Regions from separate parts of the Homo sapiens genome. Here regions 1 and 2 are each linked to region 3. The links come from fine-mapping of genetic effects on gene expression. A gene starts in region 3. Each other region holds a variant in brackets. All regions are shown on one strand. Distances are between the middles of the regions. Region 1 overlaps SARDH (sarcosine dehydrogenase). Region 2 overlaps SARDH (sarcosine dehydrogenase). Region 3 holds the start of DBH-AS1 (DBH antisense RNA 1).

Region 1 (5,937 bases), 47 kb after region 3:
AGAAAGCATTTACATCAGGGAAATTGGCCGGTGCTACAGAGCCAGCTTCCTCCCCTCTGCCCCAGAGAGCTGGTTGTTAAGCTGTTACCAGCACACCACAGGGACCATCTGCCTCCTGAGCTCTCCATGGCTTCTCCAGCCCCACCAGGCATCACTGTCCTTCAGGACAGGGCTCCCCTTTGTCGGTTTCTGCTGTACCTTTGCTGATGCCACCGGGGCTGCCAACCAAAACCCTCAGCAGCCTCCCGCGCTGGGCTCCTCTAGCAGGCCGGGGAAGCTGCCAGCGCCAAGAACAAGCACGTGTTTCGTGCTTTAGGACGGCTTCAGGCGCGTTTGCGGAGGCCGGATGAAGCCACAAAGCCAAGTTGGCATCTCCCCCGAGCTCCCACATCCTCGAGGGCCAGAGTCCCACAGGCTTTAGAAGCTGTGGGTGCGGAGGTGCCAGACGGAGCCCCGAGCACTCCCTGGGAGGCAGCGACAAGGGACTCGGGCACTGAGCCGGCCCTGCTGCTGCGGCGCTTCATGACACACACGCCTCCTCCTTCCTGCAGGAGCCCCCTCTTCCGACGCCTTGAACAGATGTTCCACCACTAGAGCAAGCTTTCGGGGAGATGGTGGAAATGAACGGTTTATTCCCTTCAGAACTGGCTACAGAACCCAGTGCGGGACCCAGTGGGGACCTTGCTCAAAGACCATGAAGAGTCTCAAGGCACTGACAGCACAGCATGAACCCAAGCGGGGCCCTTCAAGGCAACGGACGACCGCAGGGTCAGACCCTACCCAAGCCGGACTTGCGACTGGCCTAGAGGCCCCAGGAAGGAACCCCCTCGTGGATGCCTCCTAAGCTGTCCCTGGGCTCTGAGACTCTGGGCTCAGGCCTTGGCTCTGCTCCTATGTCAGATTCGCAGTGAGGTGTCACGCGTCTCCCTGGGGTGGCACGGGGACAACAGCTGTGCTCCACCTGTGAGCACTTTACAACACGACTGGGCAGGCCAGGGCAGACGCTGGCCTCGCTCCTTCCCGGACAGCTGCGGGGGAGAACGCCCCTGTGTGGTGCAGGCTGCTGCGGGGGAGAAGACCCCCAAGACTCCTCACCTCCACCCCCTGCACGTGGGAGCCAGGTCCCCAGGCAGGGGCGACGGGCTGCCAGCTGCCCCGTGTGAGCAGCCTCGCCTGCCCACTTTGGAGCCAGAGGAACAGCAAGCAGGCTCCAGGCCACGGCCCTCCCGGCTCTGGTTCCCTCTGCTTGTCCCTTGGAGGGGCCCATACGGGGCCTGATGCCCAGGAGCCTGCGGCCCCCTTGTCCTGGATCTACTCTGCGCTGGCTTCCAGGAGGGAGGACCCCCTTCCCCCACCACGTCTCATGCCAGCCTCGGCGCAGCTCCGGAGAGCGGGAGGCGGAGGCTCAGAGCGGTGCAGCCCCACCGGGCCCCAGCCCGTTGCCTCCGCCCCCACCTCACCCCATCCCCAGCAGCACCACTTCCGCTCAGGCCTGGCTGCTGGCAAAATCTCGGCACAGAGGGAGGAGGGGGAGAGGAAAACGCATGATTCCTCCTCAAAATGGAGTCAGCCGAAAAAAGCGTGAATGCAGAGCCCGAAGAGACTCCTGGGGGAGGGGAGCCCCTGCAGGGCCAGCCGAGGGCCGGCGCAATGGCTTATCTGAGGGACAGGCAGAAGGACGGACCCCCACGGTGGACCCCAGCTACGCACCGTGTCGTGGTGGGGCGGGAAGGCGAAGGTGTACTCGTCTGCCAGCAGCCTGCGGTAGGCGTAGTCCTCGTGCGCGCGGCTCCCGTAAGCCCCGTAGTAGTCGTACTCGAGGACCTGGGAAGAAAAGACGTGGTCCTCAGCCTGCCTCTTTGGCCCCTCCCCGCTTCCCTCCCCAGAGCGGGGTCCCGCTGAGGCTGTGATGGGGTCAGGCCTGGCCCTGCCCTCGGAGAGCCCTGCACTGAGTGCCCGTGTGTTGTGGACGCGGGCAGGGGGCCCCCATGAGGTCCAGGCAAAACAGAGGCACAAAGGAGGCCGCAGGGTTGCCTGGTGGGTCTGAGAGCCCAGCCAGGGCCCAGGAGGCTGGAGGAGGAGCTGGATGCACCCAAGGTGGGGAACGACAGGGAGAGGTGGTTACCCAGGACCTCAGCCAGGGCTGCTCCCTGGAGCCACGGCAATCCCAGGCCCAGCTCCTGCTCTGGGCCAGCCCCTGCGGGAAGCGTCTTACACTCCTACCAGGTGTGCCCCTTTCTACAGATGAGGAAAGTGAGGCGCAGAGAAGTTATATCTCGCCCAAGGGCACAGACAAGTCCTGGACCTGGCAGTGGCACGAAGCCAGGCAGGTGCGTGGGCTCCAGAGTCCAGCTTTTCTGCCACTGCCTTGGCCTCCCTGGGATCTGCCCCCATCAGACACCCCACAGCCCCACAGCCCCATGCCCCTCCCTGGCCGCTGCTCCTGCAGACAACCCCCCACCCCGCCACCTGCCCTCCTAACTGCCGACACGGCACAGCTGTGAATGCAGGTGTGGGCAATTCTTAACCTCCCAGGGCTGCCAGCCCCGTCCGCCCAAGCCTCACCTCCTCTTCACACACAAGTGGGAGCCAGTGTGAGGTTGTAAGGGAGTCAGGCTTTGCTGGCATCTCTGCATGGAGTACCCCCCTCCCCAGCAGGGACATCCCACCCACTGCAGCCCTGCCAAGGTGTCCTGGACACCCAGGCTGGCTCCCGGGTGGGGGTGCAAAATCCGCCCATCTTGGGACCTGGGGTGTGTTCCTGACTCTCCTCTCCTCGCCCAGGGACAGGGGAGAGGGGCTTCCAGGGCCAGATCTGACTGGAACACAGTGGGTTGCACTTCAAGACAGGGTCTGCCCAGACCCCTCCTCCCCGCAGGGTTCATGAGGACGGCATGTCCCTAGGGGCCAGCAGGAGAAGAGACGATGACCTGCAAGGCTCTGACCCCAGAGCCGTGGCCCCGTTAGCCAGCTCTGGCTCTCATCTCCCCTCCCGATGCCCTGGAGCTCTGGAGCCTGGCCTGGGCTGTGGGTTGCCATGGGGATGGAAGGTGGGTGCACCAGAGGGGACTGGTGAGACGCAGCCCCGGGAAGGGGATTTCGATTTCTGTAAATCTGGATCAAATGCTACCCCTCAGCTGGCCTTAAGGCCTCGCGTCCCCTGCTCCCGAGGGTCTGGGTCCCAGGTTTCACAGCAGGACTGCCTTTGTTCCTCTCACTGAGGACCCAGGTCCCTGGGAGTCCCCAGAGGACGCCCAGAGTCCAGGCCACTGTGAAACCTCCACTGGGAAACTGAGCACCCTGGGTGCATCAACCTGCCCAGTGCCTGCCCTCCTACGGACATAAACCAACAGTCGGAGTGGCCAAAAATAGATGCACAGAATTAGGAGACGCTCCATTCCTCCTGCAACCTGGGGGAGTCTTCTTGCTGTCTCCCCACCGCAGGACACCCCTTCTGCTCTGCCTACAGCCCTTCCCACTTAGGCCATGGAAGGCCTGGCCACAGCGGACGGGTAGTGGGGAGGACGAGGAGTGGGAATTGCGTGAACGGCACAAAGAATGCACTGAGCCTTGGGGGCAGGTCGGCAGGGCTCGGCTTCCCGTGTGCAGAATAACTGATCACGACAGTGGAACCACCTGGGGAGGCGGGGCACACGGAGGGGCAAGGACGGGGCACG[T/C]GGAGGGGCAAGGGGGTTGTCAGGGCAGGGCCTCCCAGCAGCACAGCCCAGCAGGCACTACTCACCGGAGCTGGGCCTCGGGGATGAAACCATCCCGGTCGCTCCCAGCCATGCCGCTCCTGGAACACGCAGCCTTGTCCAAGGAGTTCCTGAGCAGGAGTGGGGAACAGGCATCTGTCACGCATGGCCTGATACCCCTGCGCAGGGCAGAGAGCCACATCCGCCACTTTACACCCAAGGGTGCGGAGAGCAAGGAGGCCCTGACTCTTGGAACCAGGCCTCCAGCCCAGTGTTTGCAGCTACCCTCACTGCCTCACCCTGAGAACCCCTATGTGTAGAATTACCACCTGCCCCATCTGCCCTCACCCTGAGAACCCCCATCTATAGAATTACCACCTGCCCCATCTGCCCTCACCCTGAGAACCCCCATCTATAGAATTACCACCTGCCCCATCTGCCCTCACCCTGAGAACCCCCATCTATAGAATTAATTACCACCTGCCCCATCTGCCCTCACCCTGAGAACCCCCATCTATAGAATTAATTACCACCTGCCCCATCTGCCCTCACCCTGAGAACCCCCATCTATAGAATTACCACCTGCCCTGATCTGCTCTTGCCCCAGGAATCCCATCTATAGACTTACCGCCTGCCCCATCTGCCCTCACCCTGAGAACCCCATCTGTAGAATTATCACCTTCCCCTATCTGCCCTCATCCTGAGAACCCCCAGCTACAGAATAGCACCTGCCCCATCTGCCCTGGCCCCGATAACCATCATCTGTAGAATTACCACCTGCCCTGATCTGCCTTGGCCCTGAGAACCCCCATCTGTAGAATTACCATCTGCTATGGACGGAATCACATCCCCACATAAATTCGTATGTCAAAGCCCTGACCCTGACGTGACTCTATTTGGAGATGGGATCTTTAGGTTAAATGAGGTCATCAGGGTGGGTCCTAATCCCATACGGCTGGAGCCCTTATAGGAGGAGGAAGCGACGCCAGGGCCCTCTCCCCGCTGCATGAGGACAGTGAGAAGGTGGCCGACTACAAGCCAGGAGAGCCCTCTCCAGGAACCCATCGTCTGACACCTTGATCTTGGACCTCCCAGTCTCCAGAAATGTGGGGAAAAAAAAGTTCTGCTGAAACCTCTCCACTTGTGGCCTTTTGCTGTGGCTGCCCTAGCAGAAAGATGCACCATACGACCCAGCAATTCCACTCCCAAGTATGCACAAGAGAACTGAGAGCGGGGTTGTAAACAAATTCCGTTCACGCATGTTCACTGAGCTCTATGCGCAACCACTAACCAGGGGAGAGAACCCCCGTGGCCCTCAGCTGATGAGTGGATCAACAAAGCATGGTCTGCATACACCATGGAATATTATTCAGCCATAAAAAGCAACGAAATTTGGACACATTTTATCACAGGATGAACCTTGAAAACATGCTACAGGAATGAAGCCAGACACAAAAGGTCATGTATTGGATGATTCCAGCATATGAAGTGACCTGAACAGGCAAATCCATAGAGACCGAAACAGCTTAGTGGTTGCCAAGGCTGGTGGGAGGAGATGAGGAAGGGCTGTTTACTGGGGATGGTGTTTCCCTGTGGGGTGATGAGAATGTTCTGGAACTGGGTAATGGGAACGGTTGCACAGCACTGCAAAGGCACTTAATGCCACTGAATTGTACACTTTAGAGCAGTTAAAATAGCTCATTTTAAGATCTGCCTACTTAATCACAACAACGAATGTAATGAACACACTAGAGAAACAGAGTGGGAGGTTTCTTTAAAAATAAATTTGGTTTGGGAAAAAAAAGAAAACCCACTCTCGGGTTTGGAAGGGCCCTACCCAGGGGCCACCCCCTCTGACTGGAACGAGGCCCCGAGCGCAGGGCTGAGAGGGCCTCGGGGGCAGCATCTGGTTCCAGATGGCCCGCTGAGGGTCTGTCCCAACAGCACTTGCCCTCCCCTCCACCCCCGAGGCCCCAAGAAGGAGGAGGCACGCCCAAGGCCACAGCATTCATCAATGACATGGACATGTCCTCCCTGCCTGCCTGGGATTCTGAGGGGATGGCAATCGAGGGCACAAAATCCACCCACCTCTCAGTGAACCATGGGGACATCCCATGGGCCACCTTTCTAAGGAGGCAAACTGTTCATCTCAAGAGCCCATTAAAAGAGGGCAGGCTCCCCTCTTTATAAAAGAAAGAAAGAGAACAAACTTAAGCGGCTGTCAAGTGTCGCAAGAAGGCTG
Region 2 (5,937 bases), 25 kb after region 3:
CTGGGTCTCTGGGTCCCCCTTTCTGATGGCTCCCATGTCACATAAAGCTCTGATTAAATCTATCTGGTGTGCTTTTCTCTTGTGAACCAGTCTTTTGTTACAGGGCTGTCTCCCATGCCCCTGATAATGGGTGAGGGGAGGGCTCACACCTTTTCTTTCCTTACAAGGGCAAGATGAGAACCTGGAACCGATTGCCCCTGAAGTCTCCAAGGCCCCCAGCTCAGAGCCCTCTGCACCCAGTTCTGCCTGAGGTCACTTGCCCCAGACAGAAGCAGCAAACCCGGGTGGGGGTCGAAGCTTCCCACCACCCACTCCACAAACACCCTCGCTCCAACTTCCCCTTGGGGCCCAGGCCCTTCACACTATCGTGGCAACAGCTCGACCCGTGACAGGGAACACGGTGCCCCAGCCTGCGGCCACCAGTCTCTCTGTGCTGCATCAGGGAACCTGCCCATGATATCGGGTATCTGTCTCAGGCCTCAGCAAATCTGCACGGGTTCTGTAAAGCGAGTGTTTAGGCAGTGGCTGGAACTCAGCTGGTCTCTGACTGGCATGTCATAGTTATCTAACGTGTGTGGGTGCAGGACTGCTCCATCCTGAGCTAATCAAATCCTAACAGCGCCGCGACTAGGACTTCTCGCTGTCAGGAAAAGAGATTCAATTTCCTTTTGAGCTGAAATTAATTTTCAGAGAAAATCACTTGATCACCGTGCCCCACGGAGTGCTCCCAGCCCAGCATGCTGCTTCGCGGCGGGGCCCGTCCTCGGCAGGGGCCCTGGGAACACCGTGTCTGGCCGAGCGGAGCTCTGGGAGACACGCCGGGAGAGCACTGACCCACGGGGAATCTTGCTGGCCTCGAGGCAAGATATTTGGGGAGCAAGGACAGCTGGTCTGCTGGCTGCTGAGCGGACAATAACTTCTCCCCACCCTGCTTCCTCCTCTAGCAGTCCAGGGATCGTGGCAGCCTGGGTCAGATCCCAGCCTCTCGGAGAACAATCACTGCACAACAGCAGCAGTGCTCAGCTGGGAATCGCGCCCAATTCGTCTGGTGGTGAGGAGGGTCTTTGGGCAGCGGCAGGCGCCCGCTCTCGCACCCGGGGCCCGGGTCTGCAGCTCTGGCCCTTGTCCTCATCGGCCCTCACAACTGCTTTCAACCCAGAGGTTCCGCTGACTGCGCAGGCACACGCATTCCTCGCCTGCATCTGGTTGGCTGGAACCCAACTGATCGCCTATAAATACCTGGCTCAGGCCCACGCTCCAGCCCAGCGTTTCTTCACGTTGAGGGATATGTCATCAACACATTTTTAAGCCAGCACAAGATATTATTTAGGAGAATATGAAATTCTCCCTGGATTCAGAGAATCCAGAGTGTCTGGACAGACTTATGGAAAGGCCCGGAAAGAATTTTAGACATTGTGCTAGACTCCGTGCTACAGGTGGGGACACTGAGGCCCAGAGAGGCGACCCGCAGAAGGACCGGGCAGGATGGGAAGCCAGGCTTCTGGCCTGAGCTCCACCGAGCCTTGGGTAACATGGATGCTTTGGTCCCAAACCCCCCAGTGTCTGTGGCTGACTCAACTCCCATCTCCCACCTGCCTGTGAGGCCCCCTACAGGGGGAGCTGGCCGTGGCCAGTGGCTGTATCCCCACCCGTCTTGCTGGCCAGGAAATGGGGAGGGCACTGTGTCCCAGGCTGGGGCCACCTGGGAGCGCGTGGCCCTGGCCACTTTGAGGGACAGCCTCCCAGGTCAGCAAAAACTGTAACATTGACACTAAGGGCCCAGAACCTCTGCTCTCCTGGCCCACACCTCCCCAGGGCCCTCAAGAGGAGGCAGAGGTCACTGAGGACAGGATTCCTGGCCGCTCCGTCCTCCACACGCTCCTCGAGTCCCCGGCCTCATCTCATGGGATCTGGACCCACCGGCCACCCAGCAACTTCAAGCTCCTGAGGGCCACAGTCGTCCTCCAGACACACGCAGACCTGGCCGCCAGGCCCACACTGGCCACTCCAGACACACGCAGACCTGGCCGCCAGGCCCACACTGGCCACTCCAGAGAGCTGCCGGGAGGACAAGGAGGGAGAGGGACGAGAAGCCAGTGGGGCTGCGCTCAGTGCTGGGCATCAGGGTCTCTAGGTGAAGATGGTTAGCCCCAGCTCACCCCCAGTCTGTCCCCGATGGACCCCACGGACTCCAAGAACATGAGCATGGGAATGACCCCACAGAGCCGGCCACTCAGCCCAGGTGACAGTAAATCTGTGCGCTAAGGTCGTCTGTCTTCCTAAGGAGTGGGGCCCTGGGCCACTGGCTGTCGGCAGAGACGAGCTCCTGGCTGGGGCTGTGTGGGGATGGAAGCCTGCCCTCAGCACCGGGGACATCTGCCGCCCTGGTCCTGCCACGGGGGCTGGGAGGTGTCAGGATGGGGCCCACAGGGATGGGGAGAATGCTGGTGGGTAGTGGGTAGAGCAGGGGCAGCTGATGTGGGCTCCCGGCTCGTCCACAGGCCCCTGGGGTCAGTCCCAGGGCAGAGCCCCCCAACACGGGCCACACTTTTTTTCTAGCCAAGAGGTCGAGACACTCGGGGCCTTGCCCCACCCTGTCTGGTTCTTGCCAACACTCAGTTCTCTGTGGCCATCTTTGCGGGACTCTCGGTTCCATGAGAACCCGTTGGCCTGGGGTCACCCCTCACCCTGCCTAGGACCTCT[T/C]TCCAGTACAGGCTGGGCTGTGGCTGCAGGTCCCTTCCTGGGCCCCAACCTCACTCGGGGTCTGAGCCCATCGAGGGAAGGAGCCACATCTTCCATCCTGGGACCCCAATCCAGCACCCAGCAGGCTCCCAGGCAGCATGTCCAGAGTTCACTCCAGAGTCTCTCGAGCGCTAGTGAGGGAGAGGACGAGAAGCACAGCACTGGGAACGGATCGTTAAGTTTAGTAAAACACTAGTGCTTGACTGAGAGTCCCAGTGGCCCTACGTGAGCTGACGGTGCTGGGAGGTACACCATGGATAACTGCCACGGCCGGTGCGCGGCGTGTTTCCCAGCAGCTGGGCCTCCTTATGCGTGTAGCACCTCCCCGCCGCCTATTTCCTGTGTCCCCACGATCGCGCACGCCAGTTGACGCTCATGTCCCACCTCCCCTGTGTTTCCCCTCCCCCCCATCCCACACGCAGGGACCCCAGCCTAGAAAGCATTGTGCTTCTCTCCCACTCCGCCTGAGACCTAGGGTAGCACTGGGCAAGCGAGGGGCGCAGAAATACGGAAGGACAGAGAAGAACACACCACAGAGTGACCCGGGACCATGAACCGCACATACCTCCGACCTGGTGGGCCCAGCTCTACCCTCTCTCAGACCAACAGTCAGCATCTACTGGGAGGACGGTGTTCAAGGGAAGTTCCTCCCGGGGCCACTTCCAAAGCAGAGAGGTGGACCCGGTGTGAAACACATGAGCAGGGCACTGGAGACGCAGCTGAGGGCGTTCCAAGTGGTTCTCGGGGAACGTTCAAAGGAACAGGGGAACAGTCACGACATTCGGAGAATAAAGCAGTGTGTACAGACTGCATGGGATGCCCTGATTACATTTTAAAATCCACAGATAGTCACAGATGACGGAAAGAAGATGGCGGGCAACACACTCAACTGTCAACCCTGGTTTCTCTGGGATGGGATTAGAGGGGTTTTCGCTAACTCATTGGCAGGCTATGAATGTCCCCAACGGTCCTCTGAGATGCCGCTGACCACCATGTCCCAGCCAGATGAGCTTCGTGCCGCAGCTCACGAGACCTGCCCACAGACCCAGCATCCTTGTTCTGAGGGGGCAAGGGTCGTGCCCAAAGTGGGCTTGGTAGAAGTGAGGTCTGCACTCAGCCCCTGTGCTGAAACCCACGCGCAGTGATGGTTGGAAACTGCTAGAAGCGAGGTCTGCACTCAGCCCCTGTGCTGAAACCCATGCGCAGTGATGGTTGGAAACTGCTAGAAGCGAGGTCTGCACTCAGCCCCTGTGCTGAAACCCACGCGCAGTGATGGTTGGAAACTGCTAGAAGCGAGGTCTGCACTCAGCCCCTGTGCTGAAACCCACGCGCAGTGATGGTTGGAAACTGCTAGAAGCGAGGTCTGCACTCAGCCCCTGTGCTGAAACCCATGCGCAGTGATGGTTGGAAACCGAGCAATGAGCAGTATTTTATGCAGCCGTGATGTGCTTTTTACAACACCAGTGATTTTACACCAATGAGCAGGAGACTGTGGGGAGAGGCGGCCCCTGCACCCCCTGCACCCCCCACGCTGTGTTTGGCCTGGCCTGTTCCTCTGGGGGATGTCATCCCGGAAGCAGAGCCTTTGGGTCAGCTCAGCAAGCACCTGGCCTGGCCTGGCTCCTAGGCCACACAGGTAGAGGCTGACCCAGGCAGCCACTGCCTAGGCTTGGGGAGGCTGCCAGGGCCAGGAAAGGGCCAGCCCCAGGAGAGGGGAGGCAGCTGGAGCCGCCTGTCTGAGAACAAGTCCCAGCAGCTTGCTGGAGTGGCCGTGCGGGTGGGGGCAAGGCTGCTGGGCCTCAAATGGGAGGGGACGTGTTCCCACCTGGTCGTCTCCCCGTCCTGTAGCCAAACCAGACAGAAGCAGCACCTATGCCAAGCCTCAGCAAGGTGGGAGAACCCGCAGCCCCCCTCCCCTTCTGCAAACCAGAACCCAGCTGCAGACAAAGCTGGATGCTGCGTGGACCCCGGCCTGCTGGAGCTGGAGTCGGGCCATCTGAAGGCCGTGTGGCCTGGATCCAGCTGTGCTGCTCTCTCTGAGTGCCCACCCTCTCTGGTCCCAGCAGGCAGCTTTGCACCACAGAGGCAGGAAGCAAGCTAGACACAGCCGGCCCTGCTTCCTGCCCCTGTGCAGCCTCTGGAGAGGGGAGGTGAGAGCAGAGCCGCTGGGATCTCCCTAGTTTCTGGCCGCCTCCTCCCTGACAGTCATCGCCAGATTGTTTATCTGCTAACAGAACCCAGATTTGTCCCCCAGGACCTCCAGTCCCTCTGCAGGCCAGGACCTCGCTCCTCCCCAACCTTCCTTAGCATTTCCCCACCCAAACCCCAGACGAACATACAGGAAGGAGAGACAGGGAGCTGCCTCCAAACGCGGCCGTGCACCCGCCCACCCCCTCCTGAAGGCCACATCCGTGTCACTGACACATATCGGGGGCTTTCTGGGTTTCTTTAGCCGGGCGGCCCTGAGCAGCCTGGCCCATCCAGCCTCTCTGAGCTCCATCTGGGTAACATCCGTCATGCAGGGCGACATCTCCTCCAGCATGAGCGCTGGAGGGCTCTGGAGGCCCGGCCCCCGCTGCCACTACATGGCTTACAGCCCTGCAAACAAGCAGGGTGGTCATGCACTGAGGTTCTCAATGGGCGATCCTGCCCCCAGCGGACCCTTGGCCATGTCTGAACACACTTGTGGCTGTCACGACGGTGGGTGCCACTGGCACCTAGTGGGCGGCAGCCAGGGAGGCGGCCACACACCTGTGTCACACAGGAGGGCCCTCACAGCAGAGAGGATCTCCTCCAAACGTCAGTAGTGCTGAGGTTGGGAGACCCTGTAACAGAGCCGCCCGCACTATGGCGAGGATTACATGGGAAAGTGTGCTGTGATGTTCTCGGAACAGTGTCTGGCACACAGGAAGCCCTCGGCAAACAGGGGCTGCTGTGTTTACCATCCTCATCTCAGCCTCGAGAAGTCAAAGCAGATGCCAAGATGCCTGTTTTCCAACAAGGAAACAAAGCCCAGAAGAGGGTCGTGCTGGCCCAGAACTAGAATCTGGGCCCCGATCCTGGTCTCTGAGGGAGCCTCCTGCCTGGGGCCAGGTCCCATGGAGTGCTGGCTCCGGACACTACCACCATCTCAGAAGGGACGGGCTCTGGCCCCCAGGATACAGGCTTTCTAGAGTTGGTGGGGGACATGTGGGG
Region 3 (5,937 bases):
AATAATTATCCTGTGAATTGTGTGGCTCAAGTGGAGCAGACCTGGGTTACAGCTACCCTGACATCCCTCAGCGCCAGGAACTCAGGTCCATGTCACAGCCCTATTCTTTGTGTTTTAATCCAATGTGGATTCACCTGATGTTTACTGAGCCCAGACTGCCAGTGGTTTATTTTATTTTATTTTATATTTTATTTTTTTTTGAGACGGAGTCTCGCTCTGTCACCCAGGCTGTGTGTTCTCAGCTTGCTGCAACCTCCACCTCCCGAGTTCAACCGATTCTCCTGCCTCAGCCTCCTGAATAGCTGGGACTACAGGCACCCACCACCACGCCTGGCTAATTTTTGTATTTTTAGTAGAGATGGATTTTCACCATGTTGGCCAGGCTGGTCTCAAACTCCTCATGTAATCCCTCATGCTGGGATTACAGGCATGAGCCATAGCACCCAGCCAGTGTTTGTATTTTCACAGGTGAGACATAAAGGCTCAGAGAGGGCAGGCACTTGACCAAAGTCACACAGCTGATAGATGGCTGAGCTGGGATTTGACCCAGGGTCTTGTGCCTCACAGCTGTTACCCCACCCTTCCTGTCTCCCTTGGATTTCAGGTGACAAGTGTCCTAGGTTCCTGATCACAAACTCAGGGTGGAGACAGGACAGCTTTGTCAGTCCTTTATTCTCTCTAGAGGAGGTGCTCAGTATATCACAGCAGTGGCTGATGTCGGGTGCTTGCCACAGCTCAGCACTGCTCTAATAACTCATCCTAACCACACCAAGCCTTGCTGAGACCTCTGAGCAATCCCACCAGGAGATACAGTGAGGTCCAGCCACTCAGGCCACACAGCGAACAGGAGGCAGGGCTGGTATGGGTGCAGGTGCCAACCCCGACTGTGCCGCCTCTCGGCTAAGCACCTGTGCAGTGACTGAGTGGGCTCGCAAACAGAGGGCTCTGCAGGTGGAGCACCCCAGGCAAGTCCCCACCATCAGCCCCATTCTGCAGGCGCGGCCCCGGGGCCAGGGATGGGAGGGTCTTGCCGGGCATCCAGCGAGGAGACTGCATATTCCCTGCCCAATCTGGCTTCACGGCGGCGGAACTGACGCCACGTCCCAGGGCGTTCGGGGCTGCCAGGCCTGGTGAGCACCGCGGACATCTCAGATGGCCGTTCTGCAGGTTGAGGCCCTCGGTGCCAGCGTCCCCGTGGGCAGTTCTGTGGCTTCCCTGGCCCATGTCGTCCTCTTGGCAGTGGCCACATCACAGCACCAGGTGGGATCAAAGGGGAGGGCAGCTCCCCAGGTGGACCTGAGCTTCTCACACTCTGACAAGCCCTCGCCTGCTGATCCAAGACACAGTGGCCTTTGAAATTCGATTTCCTTCCCCAGGTGAAAGAGGAGAACAGATTCTACACAGGGTCGGACTCAGTTCCCTTTTGATGTCTGTGGTGGCAGAGGGTGGGGAGGGACAGGAACTCACACAGGAGGGCAATCGTCCCGATCTGACGGGGGCGGGATGGATGAGAAAAGCTGGGAAAGGAGGAATCCGGCCCAGAGAACAATGCTGGCAAAAACGCGTCCTGGCCAACAGGTGCCAGGTTTCGTCTCTGGGCAGAACTGTCCCATGCTCTTTGTCTGCACGGGAGGAGGGGGCGGCAGCTGGTGTAAGTGCCACGCCAAGCTTTGCCCAGTCCCTTTGTTCTGCCATAGAGTAAAGATTGCCTTTCTTCCCCACCAGCCAGATGAAATCCCCAGGCCCACAGCAGCTTCACAAACAGCGGGGAGCCTGGAGGGGCAAGGGTGGCCAGGGCGTCATGTCCCGGCCCCTGACCTGCTGGGATCTGAGCTGCTGCCGGGGGAGCTTTGCTCTCTCCAGCCCCAGCTCCTCCAAGCTGCTGCTGTTCTTCCTCCTATGGCTGAGGCTCCACGGTCACCAGCTCCAAGAGCAGCAACCCAGCGAGGGGCTTAAAGCTGGCAGTGGGGACTCAGAGGGTGCCTGCCCTGCCCCTCCCATGCGATGGCAGGCCGTAGGGTTGCCGTGAGAGGCTGGAGGTTGTCGCGGCCTCTAGTCACGGTCCTGTCTTATAGAGTCCCTGCTCCCCTCAGAGCCACGTTGGAGAAATGACTGGTGGACGGTGCGGGGCTGCAGTGGAAAGGGCCTCCCTTGCAGTCCTTGGCTCCAGGCTCTCGCTGGAGGTCATGGGGACAGCTTCCAGACAATGGCCGGGACGCTGGGTGCACTCAGGCTGTGCCACCGATGCTGTGGCCACCACGGGGCATCCCCTTGCCTGCTCTGAGACTCAGTTTCTGTACCCATAAAATGGGCACAATAACACCCCATCCGCTTGTCCCGTTTCATTTTTCCTCACAGCATCATCAGTACCTGATACGAATTTCCTGGTTGACTCACTCACTCACTGCCTGTCTCTCCTGCCAATGGTGGCAATTCCTTGAGGGCAGGGACTCGGTTCCCCAGAGCATGCCTGGCACGGTGCAGTGAACAGACGAGTGGACGCAGTGTACACGTGGGTGCGGCGAAAGCTGCTGGATGGCAGCGTCTGCGTGGCATGGCCCGGGGCTGACGGGTCTCCTCCAACTTGCAGGGGGGCTTCGGGATCCTGGAGGAGATGTGTGTCAACTACGTGCACTACTACCCCCAGACGCAGCTGGAGCTCTGCAAGAGCGCTGTGGACGCCGGCTTCCTGCAGAAGTACTTCCACCTCATCAACAGGTGAGGGCTCCCTGCACAAGCTCCCTGCCCCCAGGGAACCCCGACACAGAACCTCGGGCCTGTTAGGCGGCTGGGCAGATTGGAGGAGTCCAGGCTAAGTTCTAGGAGCAGAGACCTGTGGCGGCATCACTCACCCCTCCCCTCACTCGTTTCCTGCTGAGTCTGGATTTGGCTTCAGAGCCTCCTCAACCCAGCCTGCAGCAGCCATTACCCACCCGCCAAGGTGACAGGAGAGGTGAGGCCGTTGCCGGTGAAGGCAGCATCTGGGGTGGCCTGGCGGAGGCAGCGGGGCTGGGGAGGAGGTGGCAGGACGGTTGCCCCAGGGACAGGACTCGAGTTGCAGGGAGGTGTTGCTGGTGCCCACTGGGCTCCCTGCCCGTCAGCTGCTCCCCAGCCTGGCTGTTCCTTGTCCCCACCAGGTTCAACAACGAGGATGTCTGCACCTGCCCTCAGGCGTCCGTGTCTCAGCAGTTCACCTCTGTTCCCTGGAACTCCTTCAACCGCGACGTACTGAAGGCCCTGTACAGCTTCGCGCCCATCTCCATGCACTGCAACAAGTCCTCAGCCGTCCGCTTCCAGGTGCGCTGCCATGGGCCCGGGTGGGGCATGCAGTCAGGCAGGCCTCATGGGGGGCCCCAGTGAGGGGTGATGGGTCTGCACTCCAAACTGCTGGCAAAAGCACTCGCACAAGACAATGAGAGCAAGTGCCAGGTGGTGACACATAGGCCTAGACAGCCAGCCAGCCAGCAGAGAGAGAGGAGAGAGGAGAGAGAGGAGAGAGAGGAGAGAGAGGAGAGAGAGGAGAGAGGGAGAGGGAGAGAGGGAGAGGGAGAGAGGAGAGAGAGAGGAGAGAGAGAGAGAGAGAGAGGGAGAGAGAGAGAACCAATAACGAGGCAAGGAAGGGAGGGCAGGCACCCTCTCTGGTGACACCTCCACACTGTACCGAATGCCAAATGCAGGTGGTGTGAGCAGGGCGCACTAACCTGCCTAAAAATAAAGCACCAGGGGAGGGGAAGGTAAGAAACGAACCAGTCTGAAGCTGCGAGCTGGTTTTTTCCTCCTTATCTGAGACCCACTGGTATTCGAAGGCATCTAATTTATCCTGGGCCCACTGGGCTGTGGTCAGGAGGCCAGGGCCTATGCAGAGTTAGTCGCGTAAGGTGCCGCAGCCTGGAGATCCAGGAAGATCCTTCCCAGAAGCATTTGGGAGCCAGATTAACTGCTAAGTCAAACATCCTCAGCACCAAGGGAAGGAAGGGCTAATACTGGCTTGCTGAGAATAGTGTGGGGTGGACGTCTGATGGGGTTGAAAACTTGGCATTTGGTGTAGCCTTGAGGGGAAGAGATAGCTAAAAAATATCAGAGCCTGCAGCCAGGGGCTCTGGTTGCTACACTAGGGTGAATGATTAAATTGGGTGGGGACAGAGGCGGGGAGAGGCCTGGATGACTCCCAGGTTCCTGACTAGGTGAATGGGAAGCCAGGGGAGGGGGCATTTACTGAGGTGAGGACCCCCAAAAAGCAACTTGGGGGAGCAGAGTGAGTTCAGTTTGAGACAAGCTGAGTTTGAGGGCAAGAATCCAAGAGGTGGCTGGGAAGTGGCTGGGGAAGCAGCCACCCATCTTGCCCCTCCAGCCTCAGTTTACCTCCTGCCCCCTTCCTTGCAGGGTGAATGGAACCTGCAGCCCCTGCCCAAGGTCATCTCCACACTGGAAGAGCCCACCCCACAGTGCCCCACCAGCCAGGGCCGAAGCCCTGCTGGCCCCACCGTTGTCAGCATTGGTGGGGGCAAAGGCTGAGGGGGGACCTACTCCTCCCCCTCCTCCATGCTGTCCCTGTGGGCTCACACCGGCACTGTGCACTCTACTCTGCGACGATCCCCATGGAACAGCCCTGCACGCCCAGGATGAAGGGGCCAGACCACGCCCCTGCCTGAGACCACGGTCCAATCCAGCCTTCTTCCCCCAGGGTCCCCTGCATGGCTGAGAGGGTGTGGGTGCCCTGTTGACCTACCCTGGACCGAGTGGACCACGACCTCGTCCATTTAAACCCGGCTGACTCAGTGCAGGGACAGCCTGCACAGTGGTCCAGGGTCCAGCCCTCCGCCAGCCCTGTTCCGCCTCACTGGGTGTGGCCTGGCTTCTGGGACAGGCACCATGCTGGGCCGGGGTGTGGAATCACCGGGAACGCCCCCGCCCCCGCCCCGCTGCTCCCGGTGTGCAGCGGGTGCGGGTGCCGCTTAAACATTTCCCTGCTGAGTGGCTCGTGTTTCACAGTGGGCGGCTTCCCTGCGACGGAGGCAGGACCAGGCATTTAGCTAGTTAGAGACTCGCCTGGGAAATTGCTCCATTCCTGAGTAAACAGATATTTTCGCCCACCTAAAGGGAAGCCCTGACAACAACTATCACCAAAAGACGAGGCGGCAAAGATCCAGCGGGGCTTCTGGGCGCCGGTTCCACGTGGGGTGGAATTATTAGCACCAGCTTGCTTCTCTGCCGGTGGGGCCAGCGCTGAACAGACCGGGGTGGAGTCAGGGCTGTGCTTTCCGCGTGGTTCTGCCACTTAGGGAGTGTGCCTTGGGCGGGCCATTTCACATTCCTGACCCTCACTTTTCTCATCTGTAAAACCAGGCTGATGCCGTGCGGGCTAATGAGCCAATAAAGCTCACACTTGGGCTGGCACCCACTGGAGGTGGGTATGTTTGCACTCCGGGCCGTCGCTCCAGGAGAGAGAAGCTTGCTCCTGAGCCTCCTCCCTGTGCCAGGCGTGGTACCAAGTGCTTCCCCCTGAGCGTCCTGAAGCTGCCTCAGCTGGCCTGGGTGGGTCTCCCCTTCCTGCCCTCTGAGCTGCCTCTCAGGGACAAGTTCAGCTCTTTGATGGTTTCTGGAGACAGTAACAGATGCACTTGTGTTCAGCCACTTCAGCAAAACGCTGCCCAGCCTCATGGGGAGAGAGGGAGATGGATGGGCCTCGGAGTCCCCTCGCATCAGCTAAGCGGCTGCTGCTTCTGCAAGGCACTTCACTTCATCACAGAAGGGAAGTCACGAGCCCAGGAGCTCTGCCTCACGTTGTATAAATCACAGCTTCTTGTGGTCCATAAGTCACGGCGCTAGCGCTGTGAAATGCCAGGCCCCAGCCTGGAGAGCCACTCCGGCCCTCTGTCATCTTTACAGCCTAGGTGACAGTAGACACGGAGCAGGCCCAAGAAGCCTCTTCCCGCG

The links. PIP is the estimated chance that this variant, and not a neighbour inherited with it, causes the effect.
Region 1: its variant is fine-mapped to the expression of DBH-AS1 in whole blood (INTERVAL, PIP 0.98).
Region 2: its variant is fine-mapped to the expression of DBH-AS1 in whole blood (INTERVAL, PIP 0.92).

The regions. Positions count from the first base shown.
Region 1 is chr9:133,701,206-133,707,142 of GRCh38, forward strand. SARDH (sarcosine dehydrogenase) reads right to left here. Exons shown (of 21, transcript NM_001134707.2): 12 at 3,743-3,826; 13 at 1,711-1,824. Among named protein-coding and RNA genes, the nearest start is that of SARDH, 34 kb to the right of the region's middle. The variant T/C (reference allele first, on the strand shown) is at 3,678.
Region 2 is chr9:133,678,769-133,684,705 of GRCh38, forward strand. The region is part of intron 17 of SARDH (sarcosine dehydrogenase); the gene reads right to left. Among named protein-coding and RNA genes, the nearest start is that of DBH-AS1, 24 kb to the left of the region's middle. The variant T/C (reference allele first, on the strand shown) is at 2,704.
Region 3 is chr9:133,653,933-133,659,869 of GRCh38, forward strand. DBH-AS1 (DBH antisense RNA 1) reads right to left here and starts at 3,476. Exons shown (of 2, transcript NR_102735.1): 1 at 3,195-3,476; 2 at 655-2,605. It overlaps DBH (dopamine beta-hydroxylase), which reads left to right. Exons shown (of 12, transcript NM_000787.4): 10 at 2,591-2,718; 11 at 3,138-3,297; 12 at 4,384-5,397. The coding sequence ends at 4,515. It also overlaps a transcript of SARDH not described here. RefSeq lists an enhancer at 551-1,350.